Homo sapiens: one gene and its partners. The protein of the gene in region 1 interacts with the protein of each later gene in a pairwise test. Each region holds a gene or a part of one and is shown on either strand. Other genes may lie near its edges. The genes, in order: SKAP1, EEIG1, PRAM1 and BLCAP.

Region 1 (7,030 bases):
GACTGAGAAGTGCTCAGGGAATTTGAGCAATGCAGAGGTTACAGGAGACCATGGAGAGAGAGCCTAAGTAGAGGACGGCAACCAAGCCTGATGAGAGCGGCTTCAACAGTGAACAGGAAGGAAGTTGGAGCAGTGAGTGAGTAAACTTTCCCAACAAGTGTGGCATAGACTAGAAGAAATGGGAAGTAGACATCAGTGGCAGCTATTTAATGGTTGTTTTAAAAAATGAGAGAAACTTGAACACCTTTCAGTGCTGGTGGAAGGAGCCATTTACTTTACAGGCAATGGTCAGTCTCCACAGAACCTCATCTCTCGGAAAGGAAGGAGGAGGGTTGCAAGTGCGTGTTGTGAGGGGTAGTCTTAAACCAGGGGAGGGGTGCTTCCCCGACTTTAATGGGAAAGAAAGATGGTTGTCAATACAGGTAAGTTCCTGCTTTGGTGGCTGGTGGCTGACAAATCTGATGGCTTCTCTTTTCCCTTTGAAGGTGGAGAAGAGGTTGTCAGAAGCAACATGAGTTTGAGGAGGGGAGATATTAGATATCATAATTCTATGATAATTATATGCATCCAGAGATAAAAAGATCACCAGATAATGCTAGGGACTCTGAATTTTACATATCACCAATCTGGTTTTACTTCTTTTGTTTTGTTTTTCCTAATAGTACTCAGCAACCAAGTGTACAAAGAAGCAGTTAGCTCTTTGGTACCCCAAATCCAATTGAACTGGAATATGTGATATTTCCCATACTTAAAATTTCATTCGGGGCCAGGCACGGTGGCTCATACCTGTAATCCCAGTACTTTGGGAGGCTGCGGCGGGTGGATGACGAGGTCAGGAGCTCAAGACCAGCCTGGCCAACATGGTGAAACCCCGTCTCTACTAAAAATACAAAAAATTAGCTGGGCGTGGTGGTGCACACCTGTAGTCCCAGCTACTCAGGAGGCTGAAGCAGAAGAATCGCTTGAACCCAGGAGGCAGAAGTTGCAGTGAGCTGAGATCTCACCACTGCACTCCAGACCGGGCAAAAGAGCGAGACTCCATCTCAAAAAAAAAAAAATTTATTTTGGCCAGGCACAGTGGCTCACACCTGTAATCCCAGCACTCTGAGAGGCCGAGGTGAGCAGATCACGAAGTCGGGAATTCGAGACCACCCTGGCCAACAGGGTGAAACACCGTCTTTACTAAAAATACAAAAATTAGCTGGGCGCAAGCCTGTAGTCCCAGCTACTCAGGAGGCTGAGGCAGGAAAATCATTTGAACCCAGGTGGTGGAGGTTGCAGTGACCCAAGATTGTGCCACTGCATTCCAGCCTGGGCAACAGAGTGAGACTCTGTCTCAAAAAAAAAAAATTTTTTTTTCATTCTAATTTTACTTCTTTCAAAAGAAAGAAAACATTTTCTGGTGCTATCAGAAATAGCCCCATACTCAGAGTGGGCACAGTGGCTCACGCCTGTAATCCCAGCACTTAGCAAGGCCGAGGCTGGTGGATCACTTGAGGTCAGGAGTTTGAGACCAGCCTGGCCAACATGATGAAACCCCATCTCTACCAACAATATAAAAAATTAGCCAGTTGTGGCCAGGCGCAGTGGCTCACGCTTGTAATCCCAGCACTTTGGGAGGCTGAGGCGGGTGGATCATCTGGGGTCAGAAGTTCAAGACCATCAAGGCCAACATGGTGAAACCCCATCTCTACTAAAAATAGAAAAATTAGCCGGGCGTGGTGGTGCGCGCCTGTAATCCCAGCTAATCGGGAGGCTGAGGCAGGAGAATCGCTTGAACCTGGGAGGTGGAGGTTGCAGTGAGCCGAGATTGCGCCACTGCACTCCAGCCTGGGAGACAGAGCCAGACTCTGTCTAAAAAAAAAAAAAAAAAATAGCCGGGTGTGATGGCACGCACCTGTAATCCCAGCTACTCAGGAGGTTGAGACAGGAGAATTGCTTGAACGTGGGAGCCGGAGGTTGCAGTGAGCTGAGATCTTGCCACTGCACTCCAGCCTGGGCGACAGTGCGAGACTCCGTCTCAAAAAAAAAAAAAGAAATAGCCCCATACTCTTCAACATCTGCTGTGCTTTTGAGAAGCTTTTCTGTATTCAAGGAGCTGCATCCTCACTCTGTGACTACCCCTTAAACTCTCTTTAAAACCCTCTCATCCTCTTTCTTGTTTGTTCCTCTCTGTGACTAGCCTGTCATTATTAATGTACCTGTCACCTCTCACCTGTTCTAGGGAAAGAATCTAATGTTTAGAGCATCTACTATGTATCAAACACTTTCAGTTGTTTTTACTTCAGTGATACAATTTACATCCCCACAAGATAGAAGGGAGATATTATCCCTACTCTCACAAAGAAGCTAAAGCTAGGAGAACCTAAGGTCATGTGACTACTAAATGACCAAGCGAGGATTAGATCTCAGTCTGTCTGACTCCAAAGCCCATTACTCTGCTGTAAGCTCCCAAGGAGCAAGCAATCTTCTGATTCATCATTACATACCTCATGGGAACTCAAACAGCACTTTGCACATAGAAGATGCTTGATAAATATTATTGATTTGAACTATGACTTGACCCCTTGAATATCTGTAGTGTTCTGGCAATTTAATGTGTGCCCAACTTTCTCTAAGAAGCCATACCATTCGGCTTGGTTTAAAAAAAAATGCTCTTCAGGTTCAGCAAGGGCATCAAATGTGCTAATTTTACAATGTAGACAGGAAGATGGCAAAAGGAAAGTGCTTGCTCTCTTCCTCTAGATGATTTTTTTAAATTTAATAATCCCATCAGGGAAGTTAACAGTTCACAGTGATAATGGCAACAATGAAACCACCAAACAGAATCTCCCATGCAATCACTAGAATAAATGAGCAGAAGCATGAACAAATTCTAACTGACGCTATCCTCTTTTCACTTTTCAGGAGTATAACATGTATGGCTGGTGGGTGGGAGAACTGAACAGCCTCGTTGGGATTGTTCCAAAGGAGTATCTCACCACTGCCTTTGAAGTGGAAGAAAGATGAAACCCAGGTATCAGAACCATGGCCAATGAACTGCCTAATAGTTGAGTGGAACTTGTGGGCCACTACTTTGTTTCTCTGAAAGATGAGAGTTGCCAGTGAAGTAGCTTTTCTTCATTTCTCATACTAATGCTAGTGATTCACCACTGATGGAAAGAAAATGCCTCTGGAATTGTTTTTTTCTTAAATTTGGGGACAGTGTCACTTAGGATAAGGTTCAACTAATAGCAACATAAAATCTAAACTAAAAATGACTTAATTAACACAGAAAGCCAGGCACAGTGGCTCACACCTGTAATCCCAGCACTTTAGGAGGCCGAGGTGGGCAGATCACCTGAGGTCAGGAGTTCGAGACCAGCTTTACCAACATAGTGAAACCTCATCTCTACTAAATATACAAAAAAAAAAAATTAGTCAGGTGTGGTGGTGGGCGCCTGTAATCCCAGCTACTGGGGAGAATCGCTTGAACCCGGGAAGCGGAGGTTGCAGTGAGCCGAGATCACACCACTGGACTCCAGCCTGGGCAACAGAGTGAGACTCCGTCTCAAAAAAAAAAAAAAAAATTAACACAGAAATGTATTTTTCTCTTCTGCAAAAATCTAGAGGTAAGTGGTCCAAGGTATCCAGTCCCAGGTACCTTTTCTTTTTGTTCTTCTCTGTGTGCCCAACATTCTCAAGGTTACCTCAAGGCCAAGACAGATGCTCAATCTCCAGCCATCCTGTCTGCAACCTACACAGCACAGCAGGAAAGATAAAAGGAGAAGGTCAGGCCGGGCGCAGGGGCTCACGCCTGTAATCCCAGCACTTTGGGAGTCCGAGGCGGGCGGATCATGAGGTCAGGAGTTCAAGACCAGCCTGGCCAACATGGTGAAATCCCATCTCTATTAAAAATACAAAAAATTAGCCAGGCATGGTGGTGTGCACCTATAATCCTAGCTACTCAGGAGGCTGAGGCAGGAGAATCGCTTGAACCCGGGAGGCATAGGTTGCAGTGAGCCAAGATCACGCCATTGCACTCCAGCCTGGGCAACAGAGCAAGACTGTCTTGAGAAAAAAAAAAAAGAGAGAGAAAAGCATACCCTCTTCCTTTAAGGGTACTTCACAGATGTTGCGCACACACTTCCTTTCACATTCCATTGGTCAGAAGTTGGAATATATGGACACAGCAAGCTGTAAAGAAAGCTTATAGCCCTGTGTCCAGCTTAGAATTGGGAGATTCATGATTAAATACAAAGGGAAGAATGGATATTGGGATAAAACTAGCAATTTTTGCCACAGGGATGGATCTAGGTTTATCCCCAGCTCTCAAACCCAGGGCACCATTTCCCCAAAATCCCCACATATTGCAATATGACTGACCAAGATTAGGAATCCAATATGAGGATTCCTTATATTGGAACATATGAAATATTGGAACTATGGAACATAATCAAATTAACTTTTAAGTAATAGAGAATATGGTTTGCAGGGCCAGGCACAGTGGCTCACACCTGTAATCCCAACACTTCAGGAGGCCAAGGCAGGAGGATCACTTGAGATCAGGAGTTTGAGACCAGCCTGGGCAGAAGGTCTCTACAAAATTTTTTTTAAAAAATTAGCCACGTGTGGTGGTGCACGTCTGTAGGCCCAGCTACTTGGGAGGCTAAGGTGGGAGGAATGCTTGAGCCCAGGAGGTTGAGATTACAGTGAGCCATGACTGCACCACTGCACGCCAGCCTGGGTGAAAGAGCAAGATCCTGTCTCAAAAAAAGAAAAAGAATAGGTTTGTGTTGTATTAGCAAGAACCACATTGTGTTTCAAAATAGTGGGGGTGGGTGCCTGGTTTGGGTGGAGTAATAGTGGGAGCCACTTTGGTGCAGAGTGGGTTTTGGTTAGAATTAAGATTCTGATGGAGGGCCCCCAAGACCAGCATGTTGTCACTAGCTCCATCTTCTGGCCTGAAATAGGAGCAGTCTTCACTGCTGGGGGTAAAGAATGGCATCAGTGTGACAGTGATACAAACATTCCTTGGAGTCCAGACCAGAGCCCACTCTAGTGTGCTGCAGCAGCTGAGTGAACTCATTTAGGAAAATACATAAGGATAGATCTTATTCTCCAATGCCCTTGTACAACCATACAACACCAGCTCAGGCCTGTCACTCAAGGTTTGACTTTATGATTTTCCTGATGAAGACTGTTTCATGGCCACAAGTATAGAGGGTTGGAATTTTTCTGTCAAATCTAAACAAATCCAGCCAGCCGGGCATGGTGGCTTACACCTGTAGTCCCAGCACTTTCAAGGCCAAGGCAGGTGGATCACTTGAGGTCAGGAGTTCGGGACCGGCCTCACCAACATGGTGAAACCCCATCTCTACTAAAAATACAAAAATTAGCCAGGCATGGTGGCGGGCACCTGTAATCCCAGCTACTTGGGAAGCTGAGGCAGGAGAATCACTTGAACCTGGGAGGCGGAGGTTGCAGTGAGCCGAGATCGCGCCATTGTACTCTAGCCTGGGTGACAGAGACTCCATCTCAAAAAAAATAAATAAAAATAAAAAACAAATTCACCCTTTTCACTCTGTCATTTATTTGTTTATCTCTTCATTGTCTTTGGCCCAACAAATCTATTTCTAAGAATTTATCTGGCCAGGCGCAGTGGCTCACGCCTGTAATCCCAGCACTTTGGGAGGCCAAGGGGAGCAGATAACGAGGTCAGGAGTTCGAGACCAGCCTGACCAACATGGTGGAACCTCATCTCTACTAAAAATACAAAAATTAGCCAGGCGTGGTGGCGGGCGCCTGTAACCCGGCTACTCAGGAGGCTGAGGCAGGAGAATTGCTTGAATCCACGAGGCGGAGGTTGCAGTGAGCTGAGATCAAGCCACTGTACTCCAGCCTGGGCAACAGAGCAAGACTCCATCTAAAAAAAAGAATTTATCCTATTGACCATTTTTGGTTTGGGTAAAAAAAGAAAAAAAAATAGAAATTATCCTACAGCTATACTTGCACATATGCAAAATGACAGGCACATACGGTTCATTGTAATAGCAAACACTTGGAAATGACCTAAATGTTTAACAGAGAACTAGTCAAATAACTATAGTACATTCATAGAAGTGAATATTATGCAACAGTAAAAAAGAAAGGGAAACTGTGTGGAATACATTCTGAAATATGTTGGTAAGTTTAAAAAAAATAAAACAGCAAAGAATGGGAGCCAAATTTGCCCCATTTGTATAAAAAAGGACTGGAGACTATATATACCTATTTGTTTATATTTGTATGGGATATTTCTGGAGGGAGACATGAAATGATAACATGGTTGCCTCCAAGGACAGAGAAACTGTGAGACAGGGTAAGGGGGAAAACATTATACTCTGTGCCCTTTAATACATCTATATTTTGAATCACAAAAGCAAATTTATGTATTTTTCCTCCTTTAGGAAATATATTCTTCCCTCTCTCCTGCCTTTATGAGGAAACTGATCATCAAAAGTTCCCACTCCCTACTTCTGCCACCCCACCAACGCCTTGGACTCCTCTCTTTGCTGAAGAGACCCAAGTCTCTTGACACCTCAGAGTGACTGTAAGCTACCAGTAAGACAAGTGGGAAGAGGCACGTTCATCAAACCTGTTACTAAACCAGCCTAGTCATAGCTCATCCCCATCTCTAAATGTGTCCACACAACCACATCTGCCTTTTCCACAAGCTTTTCACAAAGAAGGTGAGAGAGAAGGAAACCTTGGGAGGAGGACATTACTGGTTGTTCTGGCTGGTTTGAAAAGCACAAATAAACTTGGGATGTGGTTCCTTGCCATGTGTGATGATGTTGAGCTCCTTTTTGTAAGATGATATCAATATGTCAGCTCTGGGCATTTTTACCACCTCCCAATAAAGTGGAGATAGCATGAGAGAAAACAAAAGCCCAGAGAAAAAAGGAGACTTGGAATTGTCTTTCAGAGCAGAATCTTCTCTGGAATCCACGTCTATTGTTTATTTTTTGTCTTTTTTTTTTTTTCTGAGACAGAGTCTTGCTCTGTTGCC
Region 2 (7,000 bases), on another chromosome or scaffold:
GTAATCCAGCACTTTGGGATGCCATGGCAGATGGATCACTTGAGGCCAGGAGTTCGAGACCAGCCTGGCCAAAATGGCAAAACCTCATCTTTACTAAAAACACAAAAATTAGCCAGGTGTTGTGGTACATGCCTGTAATCCCAGCTACTTAGGAGTCTGAGGCACGAGAATCACTTGAACCCAGCAGGTGGAGGTTGCAGTGAGCCGAGATCGTGCCACTGCACTCCAGCCTGGGCCATAGAGTGAGACTCTGTCTCAAATAATAATAATAATAATAATGGCCGGGTGTGGTGGCTCACGCCTGTAATCCCAGCACTTTGGGAGGCCAAGGGGGGCAGATCACCTGAGGTCAGGAGTTCAAGACCAGCCCGGCCAACACAGTGAAACCCCGTCTCTACCAAAAATAGAAAAATTAGTCGAGCTTGGTGGTGGGCACCTGTAATCCCAGCTACTCAGGAGGCTGAGGCAGGAGAATTGCTTGAACCCGGGAGGCAGAGGTTGCAGTGAGCTGAGTTTATGCCCTTGCACTCCAGCCTGGGCAACGAGAGCGAAACTCCATCTCAAAAAAATAAATAAATAAAACAAAATAGTTTTTTAGTGGATTCCTTAAGTGTTTTCTGTATAAAAGATCAAGTCATCTGTTAATATAGTTTTAGTTCTTCCTTTCCACTACTAGGTATTTTTCTTATTTATTTGGTCTTCTTCTTTCTCCTCCCACCAGAATGTAAGCTGGTTACTGCTGTGGTTCGAGTGCCTAGAACAGGGCCTGGCACACACTGGTGCTCAGTTGTTTGATGATGAATGAATGAATAAGTGGAGCCAGCATGACTAGGCTCAAGTGATGCCCCCAGCCTAGGGCCCCCACTCCTGTGGCACCTGCCTATAGGGATTAGATCTGTCCCTTCCTCCCGTCTTCAGCCCTGACCTTTCTGCTTGTCCCCAGTCTTGGTTGCAGAGGGTTGTTGGAGCTCACCCTCCTAACAAGCTAGGTGCATTCTGGTGACATCACAGAGCCTTCACCGGGCCAGGCACTTTGCAGGATTCATTTCACTCAGTGCTCCCACAACAGCAGCCACGACAGGGGCGGTGTGCCCCAGTGAGTGTGCAGGGTGTGGCCCAGGTCTGCCTGCCCTCTTGACCCTTGTCACCGCCTTGGCAGGAGCACAGGGTAAGCCTTGGTCACATCCTCAAAGCCTTGTGGAGCCTGGAGGGGGCTCCTCATAGAAAGTGAGGCTTAGGGGCTTTCATTGGCTAAGGAAACGGGACTCCCTCATTCATGCTGTTTCCTCTCTTTGGAACTGTCTCCTCCACCTGGCTACTCCCCAGGCTCATTCTATCCTGAGCTTGAATGTCACCTTCCCTGATTCATCTGTTCCCCCGCCCTCTCCTGGTGACAATGAGTCATCACTGGGTAAATACAGTCTGCAGTGGCTCATCCCAGCACCTGCTTGGCACTCAGAGACCTGGGCGGTGCCTTGGGGCAGAGCAGGGTACTACAGGCCCCACAACACCACAGGTTCTCCTCGCCAGGCTTTCCCGGGCTCCTGAGCCAAAGTGGCGACTGAGAGCCCTGACTCTGAAGTCATACAGTCCTGGGTTTAAATCCTGCTTTGCCAATCACTGGGGATATGAGCTCGAGTGGCGGGTAGGGTGGCCTTCTTTTGGAGCTTCAGTGCCCTCAGCAGTAGAAGGGGTGGCATAGAGCCCACCTTGCAAGACTGCCATGCAAAGCAAACCTGGCGATGCTCAGGGGAGGCTTGGCTGCGGCCCTCTCCGACCCTCTGCCCTGAGGCCTCGATCTGGCAGTTAACCCACTCTCCTCGGGTCACTTCCTTAGCTGTCCCCTTGGCGGTTGTGCTTAGGTGGGATGAGCTGGAGATAACGTCTCTCACACTGTCTCCTCCCTTCCCTGGCCACCCCTTCCTGAGCACGGGCTCTGCCAGGCAGGCTGTATGGAGATGGGGAGCTGCTCGGGGATGCAGAGCTCGGTTCTGCCACGTGCCGCTGCCACCCCCAGATCCTGCCAAGGCCCCCGCAGCAGTTGGGAGGGGCTTGGATGAGCTGCTGCCACTGGCTCCCACTCACTCCCAGGGCACAAAGCATCTCTCCAGTAGAGGGGTGCTGAATTTTTCAGCATGGTCATGCTCTCCAACTCAGGAGGAACCGGGGGGCTAGAAGACCAGAGCCCTCTGCTTAGTGTTGGTGAAGCTGAAGCCCCCAGGTCGCTGTCTCCGCACCCAGAGTCCAACTGCTTGGGTTAATCCCCATTCTGCTCTTACCTGTGGTGGGCCTCAGGTGAGGGTCTTAGCCTCCGGGCCCCCAGTTTCTTTGACTGGGGATTGAGCTGATGATGTGGCTGCTCCATACAGAGGTTGGAAAGGTTTGGCATGACCACCTTTCTCTGGCACTTGGAGCAGGCTCCAGGGCCTGCTGGCTCTTGTGAAGTTCTTTGAACAGTGCCTGGCACATGGGAATCACTGTGTGGGTATCAGCTGTTGTTACTATTGTCATTGTTGTTATTAGTGATGAAGAAGGCAGCTCTGGAGTCAGGAGGAACCAGGCTTCAGGCCCAGCTCAGCTATCTACTGGCTGGGAGGTGTGGGGCAGCTTGCCTAGCCTCGGTCTCTTCATCTTTGAAATGGGCTGAGTAGTCCAGCCTAAGACTATTGTGAGGGTCATGAGGCGGTTGGCAGAGCCTGGCTTTGGAGGAGGTAATGGCAGTGCAGGGAACTGCCCAAGGTCTCAGAGCAAGGTGGCGGGAGCAGCACTGGGTACAGAGGGAGGCTCTGCAGGTTGCCAGGCTTCCTGGGGAGGGACAGCTGCCCTAGCTCACCTCACCCCTGCCTTGTGTTTGTCTCATTTTTATTACGTTTTCACTGTTGTTTTTACAACAACTACACGAGTACATTCTTGTGGTGAAAACACAGCTATTTTGTGACACAGAGTGAAAGTGGAGCTTCCCACCGCCTCAGTCCCAATGGGGAGTGCCATGTCCCTGGTACCACATGGAGTCCCCTGGCGCGGATGTGTGTGCCTGTGCTCACCTGTCGCCTCTGGCCCACAGGGAGGAGGTACAGGAGAACTGTGTGCGGTGGCGAAAGAGGTTCACCTTCGTGTGTAAGATGAGTGCTAACCCGGCCACCGGCCTGCTGGACCCCTGTGTCTTCCGTGTGTCTGTGCGCAAGGTGAGGCCAAGGGCGCATGTGGGGCTGCTGGGCTGGGCTATAGGCCCCTCCCCTCATGAGTCCGCACCCCCAGCTGAAAATGGGGTGAGTTGCTCTGCCCGTTGCCCTCCTCCCCTCAGATCTGGGGGGATTGTGGGAGATGCATGAGGTCCCTGGGATTCTGCAGTCAACTTGCTGCTTGTGTCTCCCTCCCTGTGCAGGAGCTGAAAGGCGGGAAGGCTTATTCCAAGGTAAGAGGGGCTGTGTGAAGGGGCAGTGGGATGGAATGGGGGGTGGCATGGGACAGGCACAAGGGAAGCCTCCAGCCCCTTTTCTGCCACAAGCAAGAGGCACTCAGCCCTACCTGAGATGTGTTATTTTTTAGAAATATCTTTATTGATGGTCTTTGCACTCAATATAAAGGCAGCATATGGTTGTTGCAATATAAATGGTACAGAAGTCCACAGAGCAAAAGGGCCAGTTTCTGTCCCCTTTCCTCTCTCCAGGCCTCTTTCTGGGACCCCATTATTGGATAGATTAAGACCTTTCCAGACCTTGTAAGAAGAAAAAAAGGAAATATACCATACAAAGAGAGCAGCAAATAAAATGTATGCGTGTGGTTTAAAGAAATGCAAAATGAGCACCCTCTGTGTGTACTGAAGTGCATGCAAACAATATGATTTTTTTTTTCCTCTGGAGACAGAGTCTTGCTCTGTTGCCCAGGCTGGAGTGCAATGGCACAATCTTCGCTCACTGCAACCTTCTCCTCCTAGGTTCAAACAATTCTCCTCCCTCAGCCTCCCGAGTACGGCTGGGCATGGTGGCTCACGCCTATAATCCTGGCACTTTGGGAGACTGAGGCAAGCGAATTGCCTGAGCTCAGGAGTTCAAGACCAGCTTTGGCAATACGACAAAACCCCGTCTCTACTACAGATACAAAAAAAATTAACCAGGTGTGGTGGTGCATGCCTGTAATCCCAGCTACTCGGGAGGCTGGGGCACAAGAATTGCTTGCACCCGGGAGGGTGGAGGTTACAGAGAGCCGAGATTGCGCCACTGCACTCCAGCCTGGGTGACAGAGCGAGACTCTGCCTCCAGATAAATAAATAAATAAACAGATTTGCAGCTTGGTTTTTTACTTAATCCATTCTGGGCATCTTTTTGTGTTATCACAAATTTCCATGTGCTTTCTAATGGCAGCAGTGTCCCGTGGCATGGCTGGCGATGGTTGACTCAGCCAGCCCTGCTGCTGGACATGTGCATTGTTACCAGGGTTTCACTGTACCCACAGACAGTTCAGCCCTACATAGTATTAAGAGCTTTTCTACTGGGCAAAGAGGGAGAAGACAGCTCTGGCTTTGAATAAGCCTGCTCTGCCTTCCATCCCTCTTCTCCATGGTGGACTCTTGGCCTCCCCTCCTCAGCTCCTGAGGCTTAGCCCAGTGGCAGGAGGGTGGGCTTCATCAGCCGGGAGGGGAAATGCCTTCGCCTCACCTCTCACCCGAGGGAGGCGCTATACAGGGCGTGGCCCTTCCCACTGACCAGAGCTCAGGAACTCAGCCGGCTGGGCAGTGCACTCTGCCCTGGCCCGGGGCGCTGACGTCCCTCTCCAGAAGCAGAGGACAGTATGGCTAGAACCAGGCTGTGGAGGGTGCTGTCACAGTGGAAATTTCTCTGATTCACACGGGTGAGGACAGCTGTGCAGCCAGGAAAGGAATTACCAGCAAACACCTGGGAGCATCTCACCTCCACTGGCAAACATTTACCAGGCACCCAGCACATGGCAGGCACTGCCAGGCCCCTTCCCTTCTGTTCTGTAATTGAACTCCCACTGCAGGCTTTACTCCCATTATACAGAGGAGGAAACTGAGGCCCTGAGAAGTGGCTGGACGTGGTGCTGATCAGGCCTAGTTTCAGTCCTGTCTCTGTTGGGTTAGCTGTTTGGCCCTGGGCAAGCTTCTTCCCCTCCCTGAACTTAGTTTTCTTTTCTTTTCTTTTTTTTTTTTTTTTTGAGATGGAGTCTCGCTGTCGCCCAGGCTGGAGTGCAGTGGCGCGATCTCGGCTCACTACAAGCTCCGCCTCCCGGGTTCACGCCATTCTCCTGCCTCAGCCTCCTGAGTAGCTGGGACTACAGGTGCCCGCCACCTCGCCCGGCTAATTTTTTTTGTATTTTTAGTAGAGACGGGGTTTCACCGTGTTCGCCAGGATGGTCTCGATCTCCTGACCTCGTGATCCGCCTGCCTTGGCCTCCCAAAGTGCTGGGATTACAGGCGTGCCACCGCGCCCGGCCTCTGTGAACTTAGTTTTCTCATCTATAAAATGGGGATCACTCTGAGTCCATGGCGGGGCTAGGATCTGAATCCAATTCCCTGATTCTGGAGTGTGTGCCCTGAACACTGCAGTAGAGACTTGCAGGCAGCAGTTACTTGACACTCATCCCTGATTGGTTCGGTTGGGTTCAAACATTGGTTCAAACATTTCATTATCTATCTCTTCTGAGCCTGTTGTATCTGGAGCAGAGCTGGGCAGGAGGTGGTAAGCAGAGGCTCTGGGGCCTCCTAGACCCTTTGCAGAGGGAACCGGAGATGTCTTCCAAGTCCCCAAGTCTGGCACCACCTCGTCTCAATCTCACTTTCCCCTCCAGGTCTAGCAGACTTGGCCTCCATCCACAGGGCCTTCTTAGCGCATGCCCTCTTCGCACTTACTCCCACTTCCCTCCCCATCCCTCGATCCTCTGTCCAGAGGTCCCAAGGGCCTGTTCAGACCCTGAACTCTGCCCAGCAGCCCCTCACTCTGTCCTCTACCAGGGCGCCTTCCCTGGGGCTCCTGCTCATCCTGCAGTGCCCCTCCCCTCCCAACCCCTGTGGGGGTGTCCCATCACTTTCCCCAGCACCCACTTCCCACAGGCCTTCCCTCCTCCCCTGCCTGCTGACCCGGCAGCTCCCGACAGCACGGCCTTGTTTCCCAGGGAACAATGCATCTGTGTCACGGACAACAATGTCCTTTCATGTCAGGCGCACTGGCCCCGGTGCACGCCGGGACGTGGCACAAAGGGTGCTTTGTGCAGCTCAGGGATGTGAGTTCCTGGCTTTGCCATGTTGGTGCTGCCGACCCGGGGCCTCTGTCCTTGGGTCCCAGTTATGCAACAGTCAGTCGAGGCTGTGGGGCTGGCCCAGGGGCTTTATCTGTCTCCCTCTCCAACTTTTGCCAAGTTACCCTTCTGGGCTTCCGCCAGCCAGGAGCCCACACTCCCTCAGCCCTCCCACACGCTCCTCTCACCTCCTAGCTGGGCTTCGCTGACTTGAACCTGGCCGAGTTTGCGGGCTCGGGCTCCACGGTGCGCTGCTGCCTGCTCGAGGGATATGACACGAAGAACACTCGCCAGGACAACTCCATCCTTAAGGTACCAGGGATCCTGCCACCTCTGCCACCCTGACCACGGGATGGGGACAAACCAGGCTGCTCATCAGAATCCTCTGGAGGAGGGTTGTTAAAAATACAGGCCTTACCTGAATAGGTAGACATCGGGAAGGGGCGAGCCCTGGAATCAGGAAACCACTATCAGAGGGAGGCCTGGCTCCGCTGTTGGCCTCAGTTTCCCCATCAAGTTCAGAGAGGGGGCCCTGACAGTCTCCAGGGTTTGGCAAGCACCTGCAGTGGGTTCACGTCATGCTGATTGCATGCCCTCTCTTCTCTTGTGGTCCCCTGACAGCAGCCCCACGAGCTGTGGTATCTTTGATTAGTCCCAGCTTCAAATGGGAGGGAGTTAAGGCACAGACGTTAAGTCATTTGCCTGAAGTCACAGACAGAGCTGGCACCTGACCACCAGCCAGTTG
Region 3 (7,030 bases), on another chromosome or scaffold:
TTCTCCCAGCCTGAGCTAAGCGAGCACCCCAAGAAGGCCCCGCTGCCTGAGTTTGGTGCAGTGTCCTTGAAGCCCCCGCCGCCTGAGGTCACTGACCTCCCCAAGAAGCCCCCGCCGCCTGAGGTCACTGACCTCCCCAAGAAGCCCCCGCCGCCTGAGGTCACTGACCTCCCCAAGAAGCCCCCGCCGCCTGAGGTCACTGACCTCCCCAAGAAGCCGTCCAAACTGGAGTTGAGTGACCTCTCCAAGAAGTTCCCACAGCTGGGGGCCACTCCGTTTCCAAGGAAGCCCCTGCAGCCTGAGGTCGGTGAGGCCCCTTTGAAGGCCTCGCTGCCGGAGCCTGGTGCGCCGGCCCGGAAACCCCTGCAGCCCGACGAACTCAGTCACCCCGCCAGACCCCCCTCCGAACCCAAATCCGGCGCATTCCCCAGGAAGCTCTGGCAACCCGAGGCCGGTGAGGCTACCCCGAGGTCCCCGCAGCCTGAGTTGAGTACCTTTCCCAAGAAGCCTGCGCAGCCTGAGTTCAACGTGTACCCCAAAAAGCCTCCGCAGCCTCAGGTCGGTGGCCTCCCTAAGAAGTCCGTGCCGCAGCCTGAGTTCAGCGAGGCCGCTCAGACTCCCCTCTGGAAGCCTCAGTCCAGCGAGCCGAAGCGCGACTCCAGCGCCTTTCCCAAAAAGGCCTCCCAGCCTCCGCTGAGTGACTTTCCCAAGAAGCCTCCGCAGCCTGAGCTTGGGGACCTCACCAGGACCTCCTCAGAGCCCGAAGTCAGCGTGCTTCCCAAGAGGCCGCGGCCGGCCGAATTCAAAGCGCTCTCCAAGAAGCCCCCGCAGCCCGAGCTGGGCGGCCTCCCCAGGACCTCCTCAGAGCCCGAGTTCAACTCACTCCCCAGGAAGCTGCTGCAGCCGGAGCGCCGGGGGCCACCCCGCAAGTTCTCACAGCCTGAGCCCAGCGCTGTCCTCAAGAGACACCCGCAGCCTGAGTTCTTCGGTGATCTCCCTCGAAAGCCTCCACTCCCCAGCTCCGCTTCCGAGAGCTCACTGCCTGCGGCCGTGGCCGGCTTCAGCTCCCGGCACCCGCTCAGCCCTGGGTTTGGAGCGGCTGGGACACCCCGCTGGAGGTCAGGAGGCCTGGTTCACAGTGGAGGGGCCAGGCCAGGCCTCAGACCCAGCCATCCACCCCGGCGGAGGCCTCTGCCCCCTGCCAGCAGCCTGGGACACCCTCCAGCCAAGCCCCCGCTGCCCCCGGGGCCCGTGGATATGCAGAGCTTTCGGAGACCCTCTGCAGCATCCATAGGTGGGTGAGGGCGGGCGGCACCGGCAGGAGCGGGGGCTGAGGTCCCAGGCAGTGCCGGCTTCCCTGCCCTACTCTCTACCCCACAGATCTACGGAGGACCCGCTCGGCCGCTGGGCTCCACTTCCAGGACCGACAGCCTGAAGACATCCCGCAGTGAGTGTGGGGAGGAAGCGGAGGTGGGTGCGGATTGTGGGGCTCAAAGAGGCCTCATCTCGGCCTGGAGCTCCCAGAACTTCGGGAGGCTGAAGTGGGCGGATCTCCTGAAGTCAGGAGTTCGACAACAGCCTGGCCAACGTGGTGAAACCCCGTCTACTAAAAATACAAAAATTAGCCCGGTGTGGTGGGGGGCACCTGTAATCCCAGCTACTTGGGAGGCTGAGGCAGGAGAATCGCTTGAACCCGGGAGGTGGAGGCTGCAGTGAGCCCGAGATCATGCCCCTGCACCACTCCAGCCTGGGCAACAGAGAAAAACTCCGTCTCAAAAAAAAAAAAAAAAAAAAAAAAAGAAGAGGCCTCATCTCAGGTATCCCCGCAGGGTCCCAGATGAGATCTACGAGCTGTATGACGATGTGGAACCCAGAGATGACTCCAGCCCCAGCCCCAAGGGCAGAGGTTTGTTGGTGGCCTGCCCGAGTCCCTGCAAAACATTCGGGGCAAGGCCATTTTCTGCCATGCTCCTGGTGTAAGAGCAAGTAACATTTTAGGACCTGCTGGCTCCTGCTGGGTGGAACTACATAAGGGGAGCCCAGAGGCGAAGGACCAGTGAGAAGGCTGTTGTAGGCAGAGGTGTGGCCCAGGTTGGCAGCAGGAGATGTGGGAGCAGTGGGTGAATTCAGTAATCAAAAGCAGGCATCAGGCCGGGTGCAGTGGCTCATGCCTGTAATCCCAGAGCTTTGGGAGCCCGAGGCAGGAGGATCGTTTGAGCCAATCCCAGGGCTTTGTGAGGCCAAGACAGGAGGATCCCGTAAGCCCAAGATTCCAGACCAGTCTGGGCCACAGAGCGAGACCTCATCTCTACAAAAAAACTTAAAAATCAGCCAGGTGTGACAAGCATCTGTAGTCCCAGCTATTTGGGATGCTGAGACAAGAGGATTGCTTGAGTCCAGGAGGTCGAGACTGCAGACTGCAGTGAGGCTGTGACTCCACCACTGTACTCCAGCCTGGGCAGCAAACACCCTGTCTCAAAAAAAAAAAAAAAAAAAGCAGGATTTGGTGGTATATAAAGCAGGGAAGTTTCAAGCCTAGCACCCAAGGGCATGACAGAGCCGCCCCTGGGTTGACGACAAGATGTTAGGTTCCATTCATTCATCCATCCATCCATCCATCCATTCATTTATTTATTTATTTTTTGAGATGGAGTCTCGCTCTGTCACCCAGGCTGTAGTGCAGTGGAGCAATCTCAGCTCACTGCAAGCTCCGCCTCCCGGGTTCATGCCATTCTCCTGCCTCAGCCTCCCCAGTAGCTGGGACTACAGGCACCCACCACCGCGCCCAGCTAATTTTTTTGTATTTTTAGTAGAGATGGGGTTTCACCGTGGTCTCGATCTCCTGACCTCGTGATCCACCTGCCTTGGCCTCCCAAAGTGCTGGGATTACAGGCGTGAGCCACCACGCCTGACCCTTATTTATTTATGTATTCGTTTTTTTGTTTGAGATGGAGGCTCGCTCTGTTGCCCAGACTGGAGTGCAGTGCCGTGATCTTGGCTAACTGCAACCTCTGCCTTCCGTGTTCAAGCGATTCTCCTGTCCCACCCTCTGGAGTAGCTGGGATTACAGGCACGTGCCACCAAGCCCAGCTACTTTTTGTATTTTTAGTAGATATGGGGTTTCACCATGTTGGCTAGGCTGGTCTCAAGCTCCTGACCTCAAACGATCCACCCACCTTAGCCTCCACAAGTGCTGGGATTACAGTCATGAGCCACCGCGCCCGGCCTTATATTTTTATTTTTTATTTTTTTGGAGACACAGTCTCGCTCTGTTATCGCCCAGGCTGGAGTGTAGTGGTGCCATCTCAGCTCACTGCAACCTCTGCCTCTTGGATTCAAGCGATTCTCCTGCCTCAGCCTCCCAAGTAGCTGGGATTACAGGCGCCCACCACCATGCCTAGTTAATTTTTGTATTTTTAGTAGAGCTGGGGTTTCACTACATTGGCCAGGCTGGCCTTGAACTCCTGACCTCGTGATCCGCCCACCTCAGCCTACCAAAGTGCTGAGATTTCAGGCGTGAGCCACCACGCCCAGCCTGATTTACTTAGACCTGTTGTGTTCAAGGTAGCTGAGGGGATGTCCAGGCAGAACTTGGGCCTGAAACTCAGGGGGAGGTGTGGCCTGCAGGCAGGTGTGGCAGTGGCAGGGGAGGGAGGCTGCCAAAGGTTTCTTAGAAGTTTGTGCTGGGTGAATAGGGAGCAGGCCCGCACCTCCTGCCCAGCTCCACAGTTAATGCCTTCATGAAAACACAAGCAGCTTCCAGGCAAGCACCTTGCCTGCCTGTCCCTAAATCTGTACCCTCCACTCCCTGCATGTCCCTAAATCTGTCCTTAAATCCGTACCCTCCACTCCAAAGTTAATGCCTTCATGAAAACACAAGCAGCTTCCAGGGAAGCACCTTGCCTGCCTGTCCCTAAATCTGTACGCTCCACTCCCTGCATGTCCCTAAATCTGTCCTTAAATCCGTCCTTAAATCCGTACCCTCCACTCCAAAGTTAATGCCTTCATGAAAACACAAGCAGCTTCCAGGCAAGCACCTTGCCTGCCTGTCCCTAAATCCGTACCCTCCACTCCCAAATCCCCACAGGGCAGTAAGGCAATGCACCCCCATTTTACAGATGCACAAGGCTGGCCCGGCGTGGCAGCTCACACCTGTCATCCCAGCAGTTTGGGAGGTCCGGTGGGCGGATCACTTGAGGTCAGGAGTTCCAGACCAGCCTGGCCCGCATGGCAAAAACCCATCTCTACTAAAAATAAAAAAACTAGCTGGGGCCGGGCGTGGTGGCTCACGCCTGTAATCCCAGCACTTTGGGAGGCCGAGGCGGGTGGATCACCTGAGGTCAGGAGTTCGAGACCAGCCTGAACAACATGGAGAAACCCCATCTCTACTAAAAATACAAAAATTCGCCAGGTGTGGTGGTGCGTGCCTGTAGTCCCAGCTACTAGAGAAGCTGAGGCAGGAGAATCGCGTGAACCTGGGAAGGAAGGGTTGCAGTGAGCCAAGATCACGCCATTGGACTCCAGCTTGGGCGACAGAGTGAGACTCAATCTCAAAAAAAAAAATGAGTCGGGCATGGTGGCATGCACCTGTCATCCCAGCTATTCGGAAGGCTGAGGTGGGAGAATTCCTTGAACCCGGGAGGTGGAGGTTGCAGTGAGCTGACATCGCGCCGCTGCACTCCAGCCTGGGTGACAGAGTGAGACTCTGTGTCTGTCTCAGTTGAAAAAAAAAAAAAAGGCCAGGCGCAGTGGCTCACGCCTGTAATCCCAGCACTTTGGGAGGCCAAGGCGGGTGGATTGCCTGATGTCAAGAGTTCAAGACCAGCCTGGCCAACATAGTGAAAACCTGTCTCTACTAAAAATACAAAAAATTAGCTGGGTGTGGTAGCAGGCGCCTGTAATCCCAGCTACTTGGGAGGCTGAGGCAGGAGAATCGCTTGAACCTGGGAGGCAGGGGTTGCAGTAAGCTGAGATCCTGCCATTGCACTCCAGCCTGGGTGACAGAGTGAGACTCCATCTCAAAAAAAAAAAAAGAAAAAAAAATAGGTACGCAAGGTTGAGGCTCTGGGATGGGGCTTGCCCTGGCTTGCACAGCTGGTCCACGAGCTGGATCTGTGGCAGGGCTTTCAGCGGGGGCCAGAGCTTGAGCTTCTAAGGTGCTCCTGCTCTCGCTGACAGCCTCAGAGGGCCTGGGGCAGAGAGGCCCCCTCTGCTTCTCCTGGGCTTTCTCCCTGAGCTTCTTGCAACACCTCCCTGTGAGCACACAGCTTCCTGGTGGGGCCCCTTCTGCTTCCGCTCTAGGGGAGGCTCTGTGGCTTGGGTCTGGGGGCCACCGTTGGGGATGCGGATGGCCAGGAGTGGGGCTGCTGAGCGCCTGGGCTAGTGACAGCCTGCCTCCAACCACTCCCAGAAGCCCTGCTGGAATCCCCCACCTCTTCCGAGGCTAGGAGCATCTGCCTCTCCTCAAACTTCATACAGTCCCCACCCTTGGCCCATTGTTCCTGTCACCAAATAACCTTCTCCCCCTTCCTTGCCAGTCATTTGAGGTTCTGATAGGAAAAAAGAAAAAAGGGGCCGGGCGCGGTGGCTCATGCCTAAAATCCCAGTTCTTTGGGAGGTGGAGGCAGGCGGATCAGTTGAGGTTGGGAGTTCGAGACCAGCCTGGCCAACATGGTGAAACCCCGTCTCTACTAAAAATACAAAAATTAGTTGGACATGGTGTTGCACACCTGTAGTCCCAGCTTCTGGGGAGGCTGAGGTGGGAGGATCGCTTGAATCCAGGAGATGGAGGCTGCAATGAGCCGAGATTGCACCTCTGCACTCCAGCCTGGGCAACAGAACGAGACCCTGTCTCAAGAAAAAAAGAAAAAAAAAAAGGTCCCACTTCCCTGGATCTCCCGCTTCTCAGGAGTGGCGTGGGCTTCTCACTGTGGGTGCAGCTTCTCAAAGGCAGCTTAGGTCTCTTGGGGCCAGGACTCTGGACTCCCCTTTCCCACTGTCTGCCTTACTTGGAGCAGTGGCAGCTCCACTGCAGAGGTTCCTGGAAGGCAGGGGGCTCCTCTGCAGGTGGGGAGAGCCCAGCCTTTCCCAGGGATCTGAGCTGGCCATGCGGGGAAGGCGGGCAGAGGCCTGCTCTGGGTCAGCTGTGGATGAACCAGGGCTGCCTGCATGGCGGTGCCAAGAGGTGCTCTAATGTGGCGGGTTTGCAGGGACCCTGGAGTGCCAAGGTCAGGTTCGCTCCTGGTGGAGTGACTGCTCACGGCCAGGGAAGCCTCTGAGAGGCAGGAGCAGCTGGAGGGGCTGTGTGTTCCAGGTGAGACTGTGGATGGCCATGCCTGGTATCTGGCGGGCACGATTCAGGTGCTGCTCCTTGGGCTGCTTGGAGGGACTACAGGCCTGAAATGTCCGGCGGGATACTTTGAGCCATTCGGAAAGGACATGCTGGGGCTCTGGGTTCTGGATCTTTCACTCACCAGGGTTCCTGGGGCTCCCACCTGAAGCCAATTCCTTGGCCAGCAGGGCTCTGACTTGGGAGCCTGGTCATTTGCCAGGAAGTGGCACAGGGAGACTGGCACCATGGGAGACCCCTCAGTCCAGAGTCTCATCATCAGTCACCAGTCCAGGACGCTTACCCTAGCAGCATCTTTTAAAAATTATTTTTATTTACTATTTTGAGACAGGGTCCTGGTCTGTCGCCCAGGCTGGAGTGCAGCGGCGCCATCTTGACTCACTGCAACCTCCAGCTCCCAGGTTCCGGCGATTCTCCTGCCTCAGCCTCCTGAGTAGCTGGCATTATGGGCGCCCACCACCACACCCGTCTAATTTTTGTATTTTTAGTAGAGACAGGGTTTCACCATGTTGGCCAGGCTGCTGTCAAACTCCTGACCTCAAGTGATCTGCCCGACTTGGCCTCCCAAAGTGCTGGGATGACAGGCATGAGCCACCATGCCTGGCCATGATATTTTACTGTCAACTATCATTGCCCTCCTGTGCAATGGAACACCCAATTTCTTCTTCCTAACTGTAACTT
Region 4 (7,030 bases), on another chromosome or scaffold:
GCAATCCCCATGCTAAATAAAAACTGTAGCGGCACCTACCATATATAGCTAGCTATTGCTAAACCTCAAAATCAGACCACGTTCGATAAAGCTTCTTTAAAAGGAATATACACATGTATTTGTACACACACACACACAGGGCACACCAAAAAATATCCAAACATCTATCAAGGGGATCAAGGCCGTTACGAAACACACAGGTACTCTCCCACTCACTCAGCTGGGGACTGCTAGAACTACGTGAACACACCATACTTCAATGCTGCAGAGCATGCACGGGAGACACAATGAGGCCCCCTCCTTGGGACAGTTGAGAAAGGCAGGAGGAAGGGCAAAGGAAGTGAGGCTGGGCGGGAAAGCTTGAGCCCAGACACCCAGGTGAAAGAGCAACATCTATCTGTTGCTTCCTTTCTTAAAAATGAAGTGGAGAAAATACTGAAGATTTGTGGACAACTAACAGTCAAGACATGTTTCTGTCTAGCCTGCTGAACAAGGAAAGAAGGATGAAAAAGCGAGGCTCTCGGGCGTCAGCAATCTCTTCAAATTCGAGATAAGTGCAAAAATGAGCCCTGTCTTGGACAGGTACTCCCCAAAAAAGGAAAAGGGTAGAAGAGAAATAAAGGGAAACCAGAAGAGGGACTGAGGAGTCAGTAACATTCTGGGAAGGAAGGAGACCCTGACAAGGAGGGGTCACAGAGGTGACAATGAGACTGGCATTTTATCTGCCCCAGGTCACATTGGGGCAGCTGACCAGGATGGACCCAGACTCCTCACAGTAATGAGGCGAGAGGGGTGGTCATGCGGCCAGCCAGGACCTAGATGGGGACAGAACACACACAACCACAAGACCACCCACGACTATAGGACTTTACAATAAAAGCACCGGTCAGTGCCATTATTCACATTGTAAGGATAAAACATCACAGGCCAAAAAGGCGCCGTCAGGAATGTGACACCCGCGAGGCTGCGGGATTTGAAACTCCAATGCTTTATGACCTATGTCAATGCCTCCCCTCCCGTCTTCTGCTTCCTTGGAAAGCTAACAGGGCAGGCCGTTAGGTGCCCACAACGCCGGGATCATGCGCCGATTCTGGAAGCGGGGAATCGGAGCAGTGGTACAGGAAACAGTTTCCCCAGCAGCTATAGCAGATAAGGAACAGGGCTGCCAGGAAAACCAAGGCACAAATTGTGCAAGGCTTCCGTTCCAGGAGGAAGCTGAGCAGGTAGAAGCCCATGAACATGGAGTGGCTGAACCACAGGGCGGGGTTGAGGGGCTTGGGGATGAGGAGGACGGGCAGCAGCCACTGGAGGCAATACATGATCTCTGCCGGGCAGGGCCTTCACCAAGGCTGCCGGGCACCGCTGCAGGAACCGACCTAATGGGAGCCAGCGGGCGCAGGCGGCTGCCCTCCGCTTTCTTCAACCCTCACTCTCCAGGAGCTGAGCCGCTGTGCTCTCTGGCTGTCAGCCCGGGATCACCAAGGCAGCAGGGATCCTGAAGAGAAAAGTCAACACAACAGACAAACAGACAAAGAACAGACAGACAGACAAAAAAAAAAAAAAAAAAAGAAAAAAAAAAAAAAAACAGGAACAGAATGTATACTTATTTGGGAAAATGGATCATGGTTAACAACAGCAAATGTGAAATGCCCTTTCCTCCCTGCCCACCCGTGAAAGTTCTACTCCTCTCCAAGTCACTAATTCGGGAAGCTTCCTGGGATGTCTCCCCGGGGCTTCTCCTGGGGGATCGGGGAGAGGGCTCTTTGGCACGGTTTCACACAGTGGGCTGGCTTTGCCTGGGCCCTGCCCAGCAGAGATCATGTATCGCCTCCTGGGGCTGCAGCCCGTCCTCAAGGGGCCCAGACCTCACAATACCGCCCAGTGGTTGCCAAAGGACGACCAAGGGCTCCCTGCTGTGCCCCCACGTGGTAAGGACAGGGTTCTGTATCTAGCATCTCTCACAGCCATAGGTGCTCAGGCACTAAGTGCAGAGTTAAAGCTGTTAGCGGGGCACTGCCGGCCACCAGACCACAGGCAAAGGATCCTGAGGCAGCTACAGCCTCGAAATATTTTAAGATGGCAGCCTAGGCTAAGCTTGCCTTTTTCAAACAGCCCAGCGTCACTTTGCCAGAATCTGCCAACTTCTCCGAAAGTCAATGTAGAAAAAAAGTCACTATGCTACTTTGTCCAAACTGAACTCGTTTGGATCATTACACCTCCATCTGCTGCTGGCACTGTATAGAACCTGACCTCTGGGAGCTTTTAATGAAAATTAATTTTCTATCCACATAGGGGCAAATGCCAGTTGGTCCCTGGGCCAGGCAGCTTGCTGGAAAGAGGTGCTTTCGGCTGGCTACCGGTGCGCGGGGACCACACTCACAAACCGCATTCCGGTCTTCCCGCCCGAAAATCCGCGCTGTGCGAGGGACCCACAAGACTGGCGGTCTAAAAGGGACCCGCCTCACTTGGAAACGGGGCTGCGGTAGCCACAACCCTCCGGTAGCGGTAGCGTAACCCCGTTCGGTGATCCAGCCGCACAGCGCAACGGGTACAAAGAACCCCACTGGCTAAGGCCGACCTACCAGGGCTTGGGGGAGGGGAGCGGAAGACTGAGGTCGAAACGACCTGTCCAGCAGAAAACTATCCCCAAGCATATTCCAACCACTTCTCCGTAGAGCTCATTCCTTCCGTGCATACGAAGGGCGCCAATCCTTCCTGTATCCCTCCTACAGATACCGGGTGACTACTGCTTTTGCGCCCAAAGCGCAGTGCTCTGGCTCAGCTCCCTACAGTAGCGACCTCCACCGCAGATTCTCATCTCCTCGCTACCGTAAGAGAGATGTAAAGAATCAGACGGGTTACGCGCTCAGGCACCCTCATGAAGCAGAGGACCTGGGCTTAAAACTCATTCAGTATCAGGAAAAGAGCGCCGAGCACGGGCCTATTATGCCAAAGCTTCTGAAAGGGGCACCACGTTTTTTGCTCTATGGGGCAGATGACCCCTCCCTAATTTCGGTTTTCCATCCATCCCCAAGGTAGGCTTTGGAGTGGCACCGGAGACTGAGCTCAAATTTGCAGGCCAGGGACTGGGGAGAAGGGCGCCACACTAAGAGACCTGCACCCCCATTCTCGCCCTGTACTCTACCCAGAGTCGTGGTACCCCTCCATTTTAAAGCAAAATCCAAAAGCAAGCACGGCGGAATCTTCTGGAAGGGGGCTAAGATGGAACTCAGGAGGCGGGGGTCGGTATGGAAAGAGCAGATGGATTATTTTTTTCCTCTCCTGGCGAATGAGGAGCGCCCCCAGCCACCCCTCCTCATAAACACCCCCCAAGGCGCGCATGCGCACTTAGGTGGCGGGCGGGTACTTAAGGCGCGGCCACCGCGGCTGCGGCAGTGCGCCCAACAGCGGACTCCGAGACCAGCGGATCTCGGCAAACCCTCTTTCTCGACCACCCACCTACCATTCTTGGAACCATGGCGGCAGTGGCGGCGGCCTCGGCTGAACTGCTCATCATCGGCTGGTACATCTTCCGCGTGCTGCTGCAGGTAAGTCTGACGGGGTTTCGGGTGGGAGAGGGTTCCCAACTCGCGCCCCTAGAACCCGCAAGACTGCGTCGCGATTGCCGCTTCCCGGACCCGTCCTATTCCGATTGCCGCGATCCTTGCCTGCCCAAGTGCCGCTGCCGGCACCGCGCGCCCCCTGCCCATTCCCTGCGCCGTCCTCCTCGCGCTGACCCTCCCTAGTGCGCCCGCGCCTGCCAGGGAACAAAGACTCGGGGCGCGGCGGGCGACCGCTGCGGACGATCACCCAGGCATTTAGCGACCTACGCGGTAAGAAAAACCCGCTACACCCGGACTCGACCCCAGGAGGGAGGCGGGGCACTACTGTGTTGAAAGACTTTACAGCTCGCAGAGTGAAAATTTTCCACCTTAAAAAATTGCGCATTGCGGAGAAATTTTATTTAAAAAAACATATAGCGCTTGCGGGGGTGGAACAAAAAATAAGTTAGAAAAAGGCACTTCTCAGAAAAAATAAAAATTACTTCGCAAAAAAAAAAAACCCTACAACGAATTAGAGAAAAAGTAGTTCACAGGAAAACAGAAAAACGCGCATTGCAGGAAAAATAAATCGGAGAAAAGCACTTGGCAGAAAAAAATGCATTAGATTAAAAACGCACTGCAGAAAAAAATTAGACAAGGGAGCTAACGGAAAAAAATGGATCGGGCAAAAACGCTTTAAAGAAAAAAATTAGAGGAAAAAGCCCCTCGAGAGAAAAATAGAAGGGGAAAAAAAGCACTTCCAAAAAAGGACAATTGCTTTACAAAAAAAAAAATAATAATAAAAAAAATAAAAAAGAGGCAAAAGCGCTTGGTGTAAAAAGAGATAAATCAGAAGAAAGCGCTTTGCCCATAAAATCATTTACCCTAAAAGCTCCCTTTGCAGGAAGAATTCCCTGCTAAAGGAATCCTTTGCCAAAGGAATCGCATATTTCCTTCAAGGTGTTCCTGGAATGCTGCATTTACTGGGTAGGATTCGCTTTTCGAAATCCTCCAGGGACACAGCCCATTGCGAGAAGTGAGGTATACCTAAGTTGTGGGTCCAATCAGCTTGCCGCCATGCAGCTCTCAGCACAGTTGGAAAAGCTCCAGCTGCCCTGACTCGTGGACAAGCTGCGCCCGCGCCCGCCTCTCCAGCCTACGCTGGATGGGCGGGCGGGGCAGGGGGTGGGGCGGGGGTGGGCACGGCAGCACCACAGACATGCTGTGGGTGCTCTCCACTAAGGGTGGGTCCTGGGTTTCTCGTCGCAGGTGTTCAGGTACTCCCTGCAGAAGCTGGCATACACGGTGTCGCGGACCGGGCGGCAGGTGTTGGGGGAGCGCAGGCAGCGAGCCCCCAACTGAGGCCCCAGCTCCCAGCCCTGGGCGGCCGTATCATCAGGTGCTCCTGTGCATCTCGGCCAGCACGGGAGCCAGTGCCGCGCAGGAATGTGGGGTCCCCTGTGTTCCCTCGCCAGAGGAGCACTTGGCAAGGTCAGTGAGGGGCCAGTAGACCCCCGGAGAAGCAGTACCGACAATGACGAAGATACCAGATCCCTTCCCAACCCCTTTGCACCGGTCCCACTAAGGGGCAGGGTCGAGAGAGGAGGGGGGATAGGGGGAGCAGACCCCTGAGATCTGGGCATAGGCACCGCATTCTGATCTGGACAAAGTCGGGACAGCACCATCCCAGCCCCGAAGCCAGGGCCATGCCAGCAGGCCCCACCATGGAAATCAAAACACCGCACCAGCCAGCAGAATGGACATTCTGACATCGCCAGCCGACGCCCTGAATCTTGGTGCAGCACCAACCGCGTGCCTGTGTGGCGGGACTGGAGGGCACAGTTGAGGAAGGAGGGTGGTTAAGAAATACAGTGGGGCCCTCTCGCTGTCCCTTGCCCAGGGCACTTGCATTCCAGCCTCGCTGCATTTGCTCTCTCGATTCCCCTTTCCTCCTCACTGCCTCCCAAGCCCACCCTACTCCAAAATAATGTGTCACTTGATTTGGAACTATTCAAGCAGTAAAAGTAAATGAATCCCACCTTTACTAAAACACTTTCTCTGAACCCCCCTTGCCCCTCACTGATCTTGCTTTTCCCTGGTCTCATGCAGTTGTGGTCAATATTGTGGTAATCGCTAATTGTACTGATTGTTTAAGTGTGCATTAGTTGTGTCTCCCCAGCTAGATTGTAAGCTCCTGGAGGACAGGGACCACCTCTACAAAAAATAAAAAAAGTACCTCCCCTGTCTCGCACAGTGTCCCAGGACCCTGCGGTGCAGTAGAGGCGCACCAAAACTTTGTCTCTTGTGATTTCTTTAGCGGCATCAACATACACTTCTAAGACTCAGCTGATGTGCCCACTGTGGAACAGGCACACTGCTTGGGGGAGGGAGGAAAAGGAGGGCCATCAAAATTGCAATAAGCTGGGCCCCTCACACACCCAACCCCATCTCAATGCTGTCCTGTGATAAAGGACCATCTCCCCCTCTCCCCAAAGAGAAAGGCTGACATCTTCACTTGTGGTCCTGGAATAAGGGACCACTTCCCCCTCCCCAAAGGGATAGGTGCTTTACTTGTGGTCTTAGGATAAGGGGCCAAAGCAAGTATCACTTTGGGAAAGATGAGAGGAGGGGAAAAAGGTGGGAGTAGCCCTCCAAAGAGGTACTAGGGACCAAGGGGGTGATTTCAGAACACAAAGCCTTACTTCAGGTCTCCATCCAGGAGCCCCAAAGAAATGAGTAGTGGGCAGGGTGGACAGTGGCTTAGACAATGAGTATGGGATAAGAGGTGCAGCGTGGCGCCTTCTTCACCCAGCTTAATGCTGCAGGCCCCACATCCACCAGGACCACTACAAAGACAATCTGCCTGGCCTTGCTACTCTGCAGGGTCTCCTGGCCCCACCTCACCCCAGAAACCTCTCTCCCCAATACTGGGTTTCTGCTTTTCCCAGCACCAGCCTCCGTATTCTTAGGAATGCTTACCAGGTCCGTGGCCCTGGGCTCTCCCCTGCCATCACGTCAGGGTGGGCAGTGCTCGGCCTCGGACTTGTCTTCCTCTCCCACTCCCCAGTGAGTCAGGGCTCTTTCTACACGGGGTCAGCTGACTGTCTCACCAAATGGCCCTGCCGCCTGTTCAGCCTTGTCTCTGGCTTTATGTGTCCCTGTCACTACACACCTGTTGCTGGGTCAACACCAAGGGAGGGAGTTGGAGGGCCATAAATCTCTCTTCCTGCCACTTCTTCGAATCCCTTAGTCACAGCTGTCACAAATACTTCTGAAGCACAAAGTACCTTGCCCCCTTAAGCCTGATCATGTTTCCCTCCCCTAAGCAAGCCCTTAAGTTTCTTAGCCCAATCACCAGCACCTCTAAAGGCATCTAAAACTTCATTCGGTATCAGAGAATTATAGGGGTGGGGAGGTGCAGATCCCGGTTCTGGTCTTGACTTTGCCATCAATCAGCCTAGGGAACCTGGACATGTCACCTTGTACCC

The links.
Region 2: the proteins of SKAP1 (region 1) and EEIG1 interact in binary tests that used the Homo sapiens proteins (3 or more experiments, as listed by UniProt).
Region 3: the proteins of SKAP1 (region 1) and PRAM1 interact in binary tests that used the Homo sapiens proteins (3 or more experiments, as listed by UniProt).
Region 4: the proteins of SKAP1 (region 1) and BLCAP interact in binary tests that used the Homo sapiens proteins (3 or more experiments, as listed by UniProt).

The regions. Positions count from the first base shown.
Region 1 is NC_000017.11:48,133,215-48,140,244, reverse strand, and holds the end of SKAP1 (src kinase-associated phosphoprotein 1), read left to right. Parts: intron 1-2,907; coding exon 2,908-3,009; 3' UTR 3,010-3,016; intron 3,017-6,428; 3' UTR 6,429-6,803; downstream 6,804-7,030. UniProt on the Homo sapiens protein: Positively regulates T-cell receptor signaling by enhancing the MAP kinase pathway. Required for optimal conjugation between T-cells and antigen-presenting cells by promoting the clustering of integrin ITGAL on the surface of T-cells.
Region 2 is NC_000009.12:127,949,990-127,956,989, reverse strand, and holds part of EEIG1 (early estrogen-induced gene 1 protein), read left to right. Parts: intron 1-3,064; coding exon 3,065-3,185; intron 3,186-3,385; coding exon 3,386-3,415; intron 3,416-6,300; exon of another isoform or gene 6,301-6,450; coding exon 6,451-6,567; intron 6,568-7,000. UniProt on the Homo sapiens protein: Key component of TNFSF11/RANKL- and TNF-induced osteoclastogenesis pathways, thereby mediates bone resorption in pathological bone loss conditions.
Region 3 is NC_000019.10:8,492,640-8,499,669, reverse strand, and holds part of PRAM1 (PML-RARA-regulated adapter molecule 1), read left to right. Parts: coding exon 1-1,294; intron 1,295-1,380; coding exon 1,381-1,447; intron 1,448-1,829; coding exon 1,830-1,906; intron 1,907-7,030. UniProt on the Homo sapiens protein: May be involved in myeloid differentiation. May be involved in integrin signaling in neutrophils. Binds to PtdIns(4)P.
Region 4 is NC_000020.11:37,517,856-37,524,885, forward strand, and holds part of BLCAP (apoptosis inducing factor BLCAP), read right to left. Parts: intron 6,599-7,030; exon of another isoform or gene 6,522-6,598; intron 5,836-6,521; exon of another isoform or gene 5,042-5,835; coding exon of another isoform or gene 4,812-5,041; intron 4,584-4,811; coding exon of another isoform or gene 4,503-4,583; intron 3,597-4,502; exon of another isoform or gene 3,549-3,596; coding exon of another isoform or gene 3,477-3,548; exon of another isoform or gene 3,395-3,476; intron 2,735-3,394; exon of another isoform or gene 2,583-2,734; intron 2,449-2,582; exon of another isoform or gene 2,381-2,448; intron 1,496-2,380; 5' UTR 1,320-1,495; coding exon 1,056-1,319; 3' UTR 1-1,055. Other genes in the region: NNAT (neuronatin), read left to right, coding at 3,477-3,548, 4,503-4,578, 4,812-5,041. UniProt on the Homo sapiens protein: Acts as a tumor suppressor; induces growth arrest at G(1)/S checkpoint and apoptosis via RB1-dependent and p53/TP53- and NF-kappa-B-independent mechanisms. Modulates expression of genes involved in the regulation of proliferation, cell cycle and apoptosis.